Regions from separate parts of the Homo sapiens genome. Here region 2 is linked to region 1. A link means that fine-mapping ties the variant in region 1 to the expression of a gene that starts in the linked region. Tissue or cell type: whole blood. Region 1 holds a variant in brackets; the other region holds the start of a gene. All regions are shown on one strand. Distances are from middle to middle.

Region 1 (7,963 bases):
GCCTCTCCCTCCCCTGCCCCTTCTGGAAAGATTTATCTTTTCATCCAATACCCACAAATGGGCATGATGCGTAGTTTTGATAAACGTAATTAATTGAAATTCCATAAAAGCTAGTTTTCGTTTTCTGAGTTTTCAGTCGTTCATTCGCATAGACACTCCCTCCAAAGCCTAAAATTAAGGTCTGGCCAGCAACAAAAGAATTTAGAGAAGCCCAGGACTGGATCGTTTTAGTCTATTGTTGAAATTCAGATTCGGAGGCAGCACCCTAAAATGTTTCACCTCTGGGTCTTCACGTCGTTACACATGGCTGAGTGAGGAGGTGTTCCCTAAAGGTTTGAGTAATGAGGCCAGGCGCCGTCACTCACGCCTGTAATCCCATCACTTTGGGAGGCTGAAGTGAGCGGATCACTTCAGGAGTTCAAGACCAGCTTGGCCAACATGGTGAAATCCCATCTCTACGAAAAATACAAAAAATTAGCTGGGCGTGGTGGCGGGTGCCTGTAGTCCCAGCTACTGGGAAGGCTGAGGCAGCATAATCGGCTGCTCGGGAAGCTGAGGGGGGAGAATCGCTTGAACCTGGGAGGTGGAGGTTGCAGTGAGCCGAGATCGCACCATTGCATTCCAGCCTGGTCAACAAGAGCGAAACTTCGTCTCAAAAAGAAAAAAAAAAAGGTTTGAGTAATGAAAGAAGGAATTTATAATTCTGTTAAGCAATTTTCCAGTCTCTGCTGTCAGGCCTCTCAGCCGAAGCTCAACCATTGTAACCCCTGTGACTTGCACATATGCGTCCAGATGGCCTGCGGGAGCCAAGAAGTCTGGGGCAGCCAAAAACCCACAAAAGAAGTAAAACAGCCACTTCCTGCCTTAACTGATTAACAAACATTCCACCATTGTGACTGGTCCCTGCCCTACCTTAACTGATCAACCATCCTTGTGACATTCTTCTTCTGGACAATAAGTCTTATGATCTCCCCATCATGTACCTTGTGACCCCCTCCCCTGCTAACAATAGATAACAACCACCTTTTACTGTAATTTTCCATTACCTACCTAAATCCTATAAAGCAACCCCTTCCCCATCTCCCTTCATTGATTCTCTTTTCGGACTCAGCCCACTTGCACCCAAGTGAATAAACAGCCTTGTTGCTCACACAAAGCCTGTTGGTGGTCTCTTCACACGGATGCATTTGACATTTGGTGCTATGACTTGGATCGGGGGACCTTCCTTGGGAGATCAATCCCCTGTCCTCCCGCTCTTTGCTCCGTGAGGAAGATCTACCTACGACCTCGGGTCCTCAGACCAGCCCAAGGAACATCTCACCAATTTTAAATCGGGTAAGTGGCCTCTTTCTACTCTCTTCTTCAACCTCTTTCACTATCCCTCAACCTCTTTCTCCTTTCAATTTCGGCACCACCCTTCAGTCTCTCCCTTCCCTTAATTTCGGTTCCTTTCCCTGTCTGGTAGAGACAGAGGAGACCCGTTTTATCTGTGGACCCAAAACTCTGGCGCTGGTCATGGACTCGGGAAGACTGTCTTCCCTTGTGTTTAGTCACTGCAGGGACGCCTGCCTGATTATTCACCCACATTTCAGAGGTGTTCGATCACTGCGGGGACACCTGTTTTGATCTTCCACCTTGGTGGCAAGTACCACTTCCCCTGGGTGGCAAGTACCACCCCCCCTCTCTCCATGTCTCAACCTCCTCCTTTCTCTAAACTTACCTTTTTACTATGGGCAACCTTCAGCCCTCCATTCCTTCTTCTTCCTCTCTTAGCCTGTGTTCTTAAAAACTTAAAACCTCTTCAACTCTCACCTGACCTAAAACCTAAGTGTCTTATTTTCTTCTGCAACACCACTTGGCCCCAATACAAACTTGATAATGGCTCTAAATGGCCAGAAAAGAGCACTTTCGATTTCTCCAGCCTACAAGATCTAGATAATTTTTGTCATAAAATGGGCAAATGGTCTGAGGTGCCCTACATCCAGGCATTTTTTACACTTCGTTCCTTCCCTAATCTCTGTTCCCAGTGCGACTTGCCGCAAATCTTCCTTCTTTCCCTCCCGCCTGTCCCTTCAGTCCCAACCTGAAGTGCCGGTGAGTCTTTTGAATATTTCTTTTCTACCGACCCATCTGACTTCTACCCTCCTCCCTAGACTGCTCCTCCTCAGGTCGCTCCCCACCAGGCTGAATCAGCTTCCAACTCTTCCTCAGCCTCCACTTCCCCACCCTACAACCCTTCTATCATCTCCCCTCCCCACACCTGGTCCAGCTTACAATTTCGTTCTGCGGCAAATACTCCCCCACCTGCCCAATAATTTCCTCTTCAAGAAGTGGCTGGAACTGAGGGCATCGTCAGAGTGCATGTACCATTTTCTCTATCAGACCTTTCCCAAATTAATCAACACTTAGGCTCCTTCTCGTCAGACCCCACCAAATATATACATGAATTCCAGTATTTAACCCAGTCTTACAATTTAACCTGGAGTGGCTTAAATGTCATCCTAATTTCTACCCTCTCCCCAGATGAATGGGAAAGAGTGTTTCCTCTAGCCTAGTCCCACACAGACACCCACTGGCATTATGAGCCAGGCCTCCAGGAAGGTATTACAGACGGTTCCCTGAGAAGATCCCCAGTGGCACTATCAGGCAGGTTCCTCAGGTATAGCTAGGTGAGATTACATGATTTCCTGCCTAGTTGAAGGGCTTAAAAAGGCAGCATACAAATCTGTTAATTATGACAAACTTAAAGAAACTACCCAAGGTAAAGATGAAGACCCAGCCCAGTTCATGGCCTGTTTGGTGGCTACCCTTAGATGCTTTATAGCCCTAGACCCTGAAGGGCCAGAAGGCTGTCTTATTCTTGATATGCATTTCATCACCCAGTCAGCTCCTGACATCAGAAAAAAGCTTCAAAAATTTGAATCTGGCCCTCAAACCCCACAACAGGAATTAATCAACCTCGCCTTCAATGTGTACAATAATAGAGAAGAGGCAGCCAAGCAGAAACACATTTCTGAGTTACAATTACTTGCCTCTGCTGTGAGACAAAACCCAGCTGCACCTCCGGCACACAAGAACTTCAAAATGCCTAAGCTGCAGTGGTCAGGCTTTCCTACAGGACCTCCTCCCTCAGGATCTTGCTTCAAGTGCCAGAAATCTGGCCAGTGGGCCAAGGAATGCCTGCAGCCCAGGATTCCTCCCAAGCCATGTTCCATCTGTGCAGTGACCCACTGGAAATCAGACCGCCCAGCTCACCCGGCAGCCACTTCCAGAGCCCAGCCCCTAAAGCTCTGGCCCAAGGGTCTCTGACTGACTCCTTACCAGACCTGCTCAGCTTAGTGGCTGAAGACTGACGCTGCCCAATCACCTTGGAAGCCCCCTGGACCATCATGGATGCCAAGCTTCGGGTAACTTTCACAGTGGAGGGTAAGTCTGTCCCCTTTTTAATCGATACAGGGGCTACCCACTCCACATTACCTTATTTTCAAGGACCTGTTTCCCTTGCCCACATAACCATTGTGGGTATTGACAGCCAGGCTTCTAAACCTCTTAAAACTCCCCAACTTTGGTGACAACTTGTACAACATTCTTTTATGCACTCCTTTTTAGTTATTCCCACCTGCTCAGTTCCCTTATTAGGTTGAGATGTTTTAACAAAATTATCCACCACCCTGACTATTCCTGGACGACAGCCACATCTCATTGCCACCCTTCTTCCCAACCCAAAGCCTCCTTCACTTCTTCCTCTTGTATCCCCCCACCTTAACCCACAAGTATGGGATACCTCTACTCCCTCCCTAGCAACCGATCACACACCCATTACTATCCTATTAAAACCTAATCACTCTTACCCCCCTCAGTGCCAGTGTCCCATCCCACAACAGACTTTAAAGGGACTAAAGCCTATTATCTCTCGTCTGCTACAGTATGGGCTTCTAAAGCCTCCAAACTCTCCTTACAATTCCCCCATTTTACCTGTCCAAAAACCGGACAAGTATTACAAGTTAATTCAGGATCTGTGCCTTATCAACCAAATTGTTTTGCCTATCCACTCTGTGGTGCCCAACCCGTACACTCTTTTGTCCTCAATACCTTCCTCCACAACTATTCCGTTCTTGATCTTAAAGATGCTTTTTTCACTATTCCCCTGCACCCCTCGTCCCAGCCCTCTTTGCTTTTACCTGGATTGACCCTGACACCCATCAGTCCCAGCAACTTACCTGGGCTGTACTGCCACGAGGCTTCAGGGACAGCCCTCATTCCTTCAGCCAAGCTCTTTCTCATGATTTACTTTCTTTCCACCCCTCTGCTTCTCACCTTATTCAATATATTGATGACCTTCTACTTTGTAGCCCCTCCTTTAAATCTTCTCAACAAGACACCCTCCTGCTCCTTCAACATTTATTCTCGAAACCATTATATAAACTCAGAAAGGGAAACCTAGCCAACCCCACAGATCCTAAATCCTTTCCCCACTCCTCTTTCCATTCCTTGAAAACAGCTCTAGAAACTGCTACCACACTAGCTCTCCCTGACTCATCCCAACCCTTTTCATTACACACAGCTGAAGTACAGGGCTGTGTGGTCGGAATTCTTACACAAGGACCGGGACCGCGCCCTGTAGCCTTTTTGTCTGAACAACTTGACCTTACTGTTTTAGGCTGGCCCTCATGTTTGCGTGTGGCAGCTGCCACCGCTCTAATACTTTTAGA[G/A]GCCCTTAAAATCGCAAACTATGCTCAACTCACTCTCTACAGTTCTCATAACTTTCAAAATCTATTTTCTTCCTCAAACCTGATGCATATACTTTCTGCCCCTCCAGCTCCTTCAGCTATACTCACTCTTTGTTGAGTCTCCCATAATTACCATTGTTCCTGGCCCAGACTTCAATCCGGCCTCCCACATTATTCCTGATACCACACCTGACCCCCATGACTGTATCTCTCTGACCTACCTGGCATTTCAACTTCTGTCACAACCTTCCATTGTCTTTCTAATGACTTTCCTGCTAGCATTACAGATATATCACAAACTTTATCAGTCCTTCGGGCCCAGGTCGGTTCCTTAGTCGCAGTTGTCCTCCAAAATCACCAAGGCCTTGACCTACTCACTGCTGAAAAAGGAGAACTCTGCATATTTTTAAATGAAGAATGTTGTTTTTATCTAAATCAATCCAGCCTGCTATATGACAACATAAAAAAGCTTAAAGTTAGGGCCCCAAAACTCGCCAGCCAGGCAAATAATTATGCTGGACCTACCTGGGCACTTTTTAACTGGGCGTCTTGGCTCCTTCCTACTCTTAGTCCCCTGGTACCTGTTTTTCTCCTTCTCTTATTTGGGCCTTTTGTCTTTCATTTAGTCCCTCAATTCACACAAAACCGCATCCAGGCCATCACCAATCATTCCATACTGCAGTTGCTGCTTCTAACAACCCCATGGTACTATCCGGTGCCCCAAAATCTCCCCACAGCCTAAACTTCTATTCCTCGTCCTATTATACTCCTTCTCACCTTTAGGACTAAACCAGTGATGAACTCCTGGCAACATCCAGACAAGACCAAGCTTCTGTGCAACACCCCCTCCAAACGGCTGTCCAAACATACTTCCAGGCCTGCTTCACCCGTTCCTCTAAACCATAATCTCTGAGGACCTGCTGTCTATAAAAACAACTTCCTTCAGGCCTTGTCCTCCAAAATGTTCCCCACCCCCAAAATCAAAGACCTCTGAATTAAAAATCTAAAATGCCTGGGGTGGCAGCTGTCAAATCCTTGCCCATGGGGTCCTCAGGCCTACTCATATAGAAATGACCAGCAATATGCATATAGAGGACCAGTTCCACATATCTGGCACTCAGGTCAACATCCAGGACGACACATGGTCTGTCATTGGTTATTAGAAGGCCTAGGACATTTCTCTCTTTGCCAGCCCCAACTTATTCCAGGAGACAGGGACTATTGTACTTACTGTCTTTCCTGTATAGGGTCTGCAGTAAGGACTATTGAACTCCTCCATTCAAAACACCACTCACACCTTTGGGAAAAAAGTAACATAATAGACTTTTGGCTCGATGCCAGGGGATCCTATTCATATGATGGCAAATGGGGACAAAAGGCCTTGGTATATAAAACGTTATTCCTACCTTGGCCTAAAAACTCACTGCCACCTACCTTAAAGCTATTATGCTTAATTGCTATTTTTAGATAATTTATTCTACTAGGAGAATTCCAAGCTCAAAAATATGCTAACTGGTGCCTTGTTAGCCACACAAAATTGTACCCGAAAACTTTCTAGACCAACTCACTATAAAATTAAATTTTCTTTAGGTGTCCATGCTGCCCCTAAGTCATGCCTGAAGCAGCCCTGAGAAACATCGCCCCTGCCCCAATAATCCCCAGTAAAAACTTATATTTTCTTTATCTTTTCTTATAACTTTATATTTTATAAATAAAAAGACAGGAATGTCAGGCCTCTGCGCCGAAGCTCAGCCATTGTAACCCCTGTGACTTGCACATATGTGTCCAGATGGCCTGCAGGAGCCAAGAAGTCTGGGGCAGCTGAAAAACCACAAAAGAAGTAAAACAGCCAGTTCCTGCCTTAACAGATTAACCAACATTCCACCATTCCACCATTGTGACTGGTCCCTGCCCTACCTTAATGGATCGATTGACCTTGTGACATTCTTCTTCTGGACAATGAGTCTTATGATCTCCCTACCATGTACCTTGTGACCCCCCTCCTCTGCTAACAATAGATAACCACCTTTTAGTGTAATTTTCCATTACCTACCCAACTCCTATAGGGCAACCCCTTCCCCATCTCCCTTCGCTGACTCTCTTTTCAGACTCAGCCCACTTGCACCCAAGTGAATAAACAGCCTTGTTGCTCACACAAAGCCTGTTGGTGGCGTCTTCACACAGACATGCGTGACATCTGCTCACCCACCTCTAATACTGCAGATTGAACAGTTCCCTTTGGAAAGCCCTTCCTGATGTTGAGCTAAAATGTCTTCCTGTCATGTCCATTCATTAGTAGAATAAACATTTTATCCAAATGAGGCTGATTAAACCAGAGGTTTATGCAAAGGTGTATGCATCAAAGATAGTGATTTCCTGAGTGGAAGAATTAAATACCAGCTAAGAGTGATTACATAAAGCATGGACCTTTTATCTCTATAGAAAAAACGCTACCTGACAATATTTCAAGTTAGAATTTTGCTTTTCTTTTTCTCAAGTCAGGGTCTCATTCTGTCACACAGACTGGAGTGCAGTGGTGCGATCATGCTGGCTAATTTTTAAATTTTTTGTAGACAGGGTCTGCTATGTTGCCCAGGTTGGTCTAGAGCTCCTGGGCTCAAGGGATCCTCCTACCTTGGCCTCCCAAAGTGCTGGGATTACAGGCATGAGGCACCTCGCCCAGCCCAAATTAGGATTTTTCTGGAGTGTATATTAGCACTTTCCTGAAAGGCAGCAAATGTTTCAAAAGTTCACACCCTTTAACTCAATAATTACACATCTAGGAATCTTATTCTCTGAAAATAGTATAGCATGGAAAACGTTTTTTGCACAAATTTTTGTTTTTTTAACCACAGTGTTTCTTTTAAAATGTTATTAAAAGAATAAAAACAACCAAAAATGTTCCTCAGAAGCAATATGTAAATTCTGAATACCAGATAAACTACTAGGCAAGCATCTAAAATAAAGTTTACAGATTTTCTTAAAACATGATGAAATACTTGTGTATTCAATGGATATTCCAAGGCTCAGCTTCTATAAAAAAAATCTAACTCTGAGTAAGGGGATCCATAACAGAAGCCTAGCCCACTGCTCCTCAACACATAACCCCCACAATCTTCTGGGCCTGTTTTTTTATGAGACAGAGGTTCACTTTGTCGCCCAGGTTGGAGTGCAGTGGCGCGATGTCAGCTAACTGCAACTTCTGCCTCCCTGGTTCAAGCAATTCTCTTGCC
Region 2 (6,481 bases), 490 kb before region 1:
TTGTTTCTGAAAATAGGAAGGTTGATTTGATGCAAAATATCCAATCAGTAGTAATTAATTATGTTAATTTTGCCCTTGTTCTTTAATTTAAAAAATGTCCAAAGTCCTTTTAATGACAATATGTATTACCACGATACTAAAATTTCTTACCAAAGTCCAAAACACTGGTTTTCTACATGACTCTTCCGGGTAAAAGTGAATTATCAGCAGAGCAGTAAATAAAATACATTCACATTAATCCTCAAGTGACTTCAAGTCTAGGGGAGCACTGAAAGGGTTACATTCATAGGATTGATTTAAAGGCAACTTCTTTAAACAGCAGTGACTTAAAAGTAATTCTAATTGCCGGGCGCGGTGGCTCACGCCTGTAATCCCAGCACTTTGGGAGGCCGAGGCGGGCAGATCACAAGGTCAGGAGATCAAGATCATCCTGGCTAACACAGTGAAACGCCATCTCTGCTAAAAAATACAAAAAAAAAAAAAAAAAAAAAAAAAAAAAAAAAAAAAAAGCCAGGTGTGGTGGCAGGCGCCTGTAGTCCCAGCTACTCGGGAGGCTGAGGCAGGAGAATGGCGTGAACCCGGGAGCAGAAGTTGCAGTGAGCTGAGATCACGCCATTACACTCCAGTCTGGGAGACAGAGCGAGACTCTGTCTTAAAAAAATAATAATAATAAATAATTCTAATTTAAATTCTTTCTGGCCAGGCAATCAACACAGGAAAGAGAAAAGGTCTTGATTTTCTACTAGTTTGTGTCTTGTGAAAGAATTTTTTTTTTTTTTAGACGAAGTCTCACTCTGTTGCTCAAACTGGAGTGCAGTGGCACTGTCTTGGCTCACTGCAACCTCCACCTCCCGGGTTCAAGGGATTCTCTTGCCTCAGCCTCCCGAGTAGCTGGGACTACATGTGCGCACCACCATGCCCAGCTAATTTTTGTATTTCTAGTAGAGACGGGGTTTCACTATGTTGGCCAGGCTGGTCTTGAACTCCTGACCTCGTTATCCGCCTGCCTCGGACTCCCAAAGTGCTGCACCTACAATGGGCCACCCCAGGGGACAAGCTGTTGGGACTGGAATGCGGTGGCAAGAGCCGTGCACTCTGGCTGCTGAAACCTGCTGTTTCCACTGTAAGCTACCACTTAGTGAATATTTTCTACGTATTGGGAACTGTACTAAGTGGCTTTCATGTTTTGTTTTTTGTTTGTTTGACTGGTTTGTTGTTGTTGTTGTTGTTGTTGTTGTTGTTTTTGAGACGGAGTTTCGCTCTTGTTGCCCAGGCTGGAGTACAATGGCGCGATCTAGGCTCACCACAACCTCTGCCTCCCGGGTTCAAGCGATTCTCCTGCATCATCCTCCCGAGTAGCTGGGATGACAGGCATGCGCCACCATGCCCGGCTAATTTTGTATTTTTAGTAGAGACGGGGGTTTCTCATGTTGGTCAGGCTAGTCTCGAACTCCCGACCTCCGGTGATCCGCCCGCCTCGGCCTCCCAAAGTGCTGGGATTATAGGCGTGAGCCACCGCGCCCAGCCGCGCCCGGTTTTTGTTGTTGTTTTTGTTTCTAAAAACAGCGTCTCGCTCTGTGGCCCAGGCAGGGGTGCAGTGGCGCGATCTCAGCTCACTGCAGCCTGGAACTCCTGGGGTCAAGCGGTCTTCCCACCTAAGCCTCTCCGTGCTGGGACTCCGGACGCGCTCCACCTCACGCAGCCGTATTCCTGCTTTCAAAGCAGATGGAAGAGGTGCGCCAGGACCCCCAGTTCTTGGAAACAGACCTCTCCAGTTACCTGTTGTTTCCTCTTCACGAAGAGTGCATGTAACAGTAAGACACAACTGTTTCATATTATACGTAAAGAGTTCATGCCAAAGGTTATAGACAGTCACATGCTAAAACTAGGCTACACTTTGAAGAATCACCGCTCAAGTTCTGGAAAAAAGAGGTGACTGTTGAACAACACTGTGAGGGTAATCGATGCCACTGAAATATACACTTAAATTGATTAAAGTGGCGAATTTTATCTGGCATATATTACCACCATTTTTAGAAATGTTTTTTGGCAGGTGAAGAAAAGCAAGGCTCCAGGAGGCCCTGCGCACCGGTCTACGCCCACTAACTCACCCGCCCCCTGCGCCGCGTCTCCCCTCTCAATTTCAGTCGCCCATTGATAAAAACGAGGTGGCTATGTGAGATGGCCTTCAGCGGTCTTTCCAGCTCCACGGTTTTACAGTGTGGAGCGGGGAAAGAAAAACTCTAAGGTCCTCGCTGCAAAGCAACCATCAGAGCTCCGCCGCGCCGTGCCGCTCCTCTCCGCCCCGTGGTCCGGGTGTCACCGCCCGCAGGGGCGCAAGGGCCGCAGCACGCGTGCGCAGTGGGCACCAAGAGCGCTGCGTCGACCGCGCCGCGCCGGCCCTCCGCCGCCGCGCCCGCCTACAAGGCCCTGAGGGAGACTGCGGAGGGTGAGTGCGCGGTGGGCTCGGCTGACCGTTGGCCCTGCGGCCGGCGCCCTAGGCTACCTCCCTTCGCCTCCCCGCGCCTCCCCGCGCCTCCCCGCCTCCCCGCCTCCCCGCCTCCTCGGCTCTGGTTCCAACACCCCAGCGCCAAGCCGGGGAGGCGGGGAGGACTTCTTAAGTGTGCCGCTCGGGAGCCTCCCGCTCGTCCCGCCCCGAGGGGCGTGAGGAGGGGAGGGGCTGCGGACTTCGGACTCGGGCCTGGAGACCGCCTCCTACCCAGAGCCGGAGCCCGCAACCCGCTCAGGCGGCGACGGAGCCATGTCGCCGCTGCTGGGGCTCCGGTCCGAGCTGCAGGACACCTGCACCTCGCTGGGACTGATGCTGTCGGTGGTGCTGCTCATGGGGCTGGCCCGCGTAGTCGCCCGGCAGCAGCTGCACAGGCCGGTGGCCCACGCCTTCGTCCTGGAGTTTCTAGCCACCTTCCAGCTCTGCTGCTGCACCCACGAGCTGCAACTGCTGAGCGAACAGCACCCCGCGCACCCCACCTGGACGCTGACGCTCGTCTACTTCTTCTCGCTTGTGCATGGCCTGACTCTGGTGGGCACGTCCAGCAACCCGTGCGGCGTGATGATGCAGATGATGCTGGGGGGCATGTCCCCCGAGACGGGTGCGGTGAGGCTATTGGCTCAGCTGGTTAGTGCCCTGTGCAGCAGGTACTGCACAAGCGCCTTGTGGAGCTTGGGTCTGACCCAGTATCACGTCAGCGAGAGGAGCTTCGCTTGCAAGAATCCCATCCGAGTCGACTTGCTCAAAGCGGTCATCACAGAGGCCGTCTGCTCCTTTCTCTTCCACAGCGCTCTGCTGCACTTCCAGGAAGTCCGAACCAAGCTTCGTATCCACCTGCTGGCTGCACTCATCACCTTTTTGGTCTATGCAGGTTTGTCATTCTCACCAAATACTTGGCACTTCCAGAGCCTCTATGACATGAGGCTGTAAGTTCTTTACTAAAATACATTTGAAACCGTCTATCCCGCTATGATGTAAATGCTGGTATCCCCGTTATTCTAACCATTTTGCAGCCCGTTCTTAACCAGTAGGGCCGACACGTAGAGCCTTCATGCAGTGCTGCTTTGAACACCCAGAGAAAGGAGCCACCTCTGTGCTGAAACTGAGATACTGTGAGATATTGCCAAGGGTTCAGATATCCTACAAAGGGATTGTTTTAATGGTAGAAAGGAAAGATAACTTATTAACTGCCTCTTTCTTCATGCCAAGGTGGTATAGATCGTTTCGGATACTCTTACTGAAAAATGATCCTGGCTTTACAAAGTTCCTTTCGATTTAAAGCACAAGGCACATGATTGGTTAGTATAAGAGCGGAGGGTAGAAATTTTGTAGTTCCATTTTAGTCCTATAAATGATTTAAAGTCATTTCTTATTTCCTTAATAATTCATTTTGAGTTATGAAATTTCTTATTTCCTTAATAATTCATTTTGAGTTATACATGAACTTTTAAGTGACCTATTAAGAAAAATGTTTAAATGATAACTTGCTTCAAATTAAAGATGCTTTTTAAAATATAACTCTTGAGAAATCTGTTGATTTCTTTTAAACCATTTGTTTACTTTGACAGATCTCAGATGCAGTGGGCAATCTAGTCCTAAGTGGGAGGAGGAAATCCAAAACACAAGTATTTAATGATGAAATGTGTCATTTTAAATGATTACAACAGAATATCTTTATTGGGACTACATCTAAATTATAAAAGACTGTGGAGGCAGAAATAACAACAAAGGAAATTTGTGGTAATAATCTTCTGCCCATTAAAAGTGAAACAATGACTAGAAGCAAACTTCAAGATAAGGACTCCTAAACACGTACTTGACCTTCTAGGGTAAAAATGAAAGCCTTCAGCCGGGCGCGGTGGCTCACGCCTGTAATCCCAGCACTTTGGGAGACCGAGGTGGGTGGATCACCTGAGGTCAGGAGTTTGAGACCAGCCTCGCCAACATGGTGAAACCCCGTCTCTACTAAAAATACAAAAAAAATTTAGCCAGGCATGGTGGTGGGCGCCTGTAATCTCAGCTACTCGGGAATCTGAGGCGGGAGAATTGCTGGAACCCGGGAGGCGGAGGTTGCAGTGAGCTGAGATCGCGCCATTTTACTCCAGCCCAGGCGACAACAGTGAGACTCTGTCTCAAAAAAAAGAAAGAAAGCAAGCCTTCCCAATCAATTTCCCCTTCTTTAGGTCTAGTACCACTTTTTAAGTAGACATAAATGGAAATAAGTGGTATAGAAGAGTGAAGGGGGCCGGGCACGGTGGCTCACACCTGTCATCCCAACACTTTGGGAGGCCAAGGCAGGTGGATCGCTTGAGCCCAGGCGTTCGAGACTAGCCTGGGCAACATAAGAGAAATCCCATCTCTCCAAAAAATACAAAAATTAGCCGGGCGTGCTGGTGCGCACTTGTAGTCCCAACTACTTGGGAGGCTAAGGTGGGAGGATCACCCAAGTCCAGGAGGTTGAGATTGTGGTGAGCTGTGATAGTGCCACTGCACTCCAGCCTGGGTTATAGAGACCCTGTCTGTCTCAAAAGAAAAAAAAAAAGAAAAAGAGAAAAAGAGTGACAAGTACAGGCATATTTGAGGGATTGGTGGGTAGTTGCTTATTTATTGAAGTTTTAGATTTTAGCTAAAGCAGAAACATCCCCTGTATATGAACAGAATTGTCACTGCAAAAAGAGTTATGCTATGGTTTAGCTCTTTATTTCTACAATTAAAAGCAGTAAAAACTTAAAAAAGAATTTTTACATCAATAGAACATTAACTACAGTTGGATTTTTCAATACCTATGTTCCTCTTCCCTCTCTTGATTAACCTGAAGTTGATATTCTTTCTGTCTACTTTTAATACATATTTATGATTCCATAGATAATACTGTATATATTAGCCATTCCCTATTTTATCAGTGACAAAAAATTTGAGAGAAGAGACACAGATAATACTTGGAGTTATAGATCCAGTCATAGATATAAGGAAAGTTATTAGAAGTATCTATAAAATATCAACAGATCAAAAACACTGCCCTTTTTTTCTTGAAATGAGGGTACTAATTGATGGGGGAGAGGGAGAGTATAAAGGGAACACTAGAGCAGTGTTTCTCTCTGTATTAAAATCACCTGGGGAGCTCTTTAAACGTCCTTGTTCTGGGCCCACAGATTAAAATCCAATTGCTCTGGCAAGGGGCCTAGGCAGCGGTGTATTGTAAAGCTTCACAGGTGATCCCATTATGAAACCAAGGTAAAGAAGCACTGCTTTAGGAGTCTAGACCTGCACTGTGCAATTCAGTAGCCACTAGCTGCATGTGGCTGTTTACACTTAAATTAACTGAAATTAGATTCAGAGTAGCCACATTTCAAGTGGTCAGTTGTCAAATTGTGCTGTAGCTAGTGGGTACAGGATTGGACAGTGCTAGAGTCTGTTTGCATGGGTAGAACAAAATAGACAATTGTTGATTACTATTAGTTACAGAAATTTATAATGCAGTATGATCTTCCCTTTGTTTGTTTTCTGCCAATATAAGGGAGATAAGAATATTCAGTTGTCAGCTGTTATAGGCCAAGCATTTTGCAAGGAAATTTATGAGAGTTATCTTAATTAATTCTTACAACAACCCATCGGCCGGGCGCGGTGGCTCACGCCTGTAATCCCAGCACTTTGGGAGGCCGAGGCGGGCAGATCACGAGGTCAGGTGATCGAGACTATCCTGGCTAACACGGTGAAACCCCGTCTCTACTAAAAAATACAAAAAAATTAGCCAGGCATGGTGGCGGGTGCCTGTAGTCCCAGCTACTGGGGAGGCTGAGGCAGGAGAATGGCATGAACCCGGGAGGCAGAGCTTGCAGTGAGCCGAGATCGAGTCATTGCACTCCAGCCTGGGAGACAGAGCGAGAGAGCGAGACTCCGTCTCAAAAAAAAACAAAAACAAAAAAAAACAACCCATCGATGAATATATTCTTCCCATTTTAAGTAAAGTAA

The links. PIP is the estimated chance that this variant, and not a neighbour inherited with it, causes the effect.
Region 2: AQP11 starts here. The variant in region 1 is fine-mapped to the expression of AQP11 in whole blood (INTERVAL, PIP above 0.99).

The regions. Positions count from the first base shown.
Region 1 is chr11:78,080,107-78,088,069 of GRCh38, forward strand. It overlaps LOC105369401 (a long non-coding RNA gene), which reads left to right and starts at 1,089. Exons shown (of 3, transcript XR_950342.2): 1 at 1,089-1,335; 2 at 3,224-3,426; 3 at 5,514-6,889. The variant G/A (reference allele first, on the strand shown) is at 4,713.
Region 2 is chr11:77,587,232-77,593,712 of GRCh38, forward strand. It overlaps AQP11 (aquaporin 11), which reads left to right and starts at 2,722. Exons shown (of 3, transcript NM_173039.3): 1 at 2,722-3,380. The coding sequence starts at 2,762. RefSeq lists a silencer at 2,069-2,698.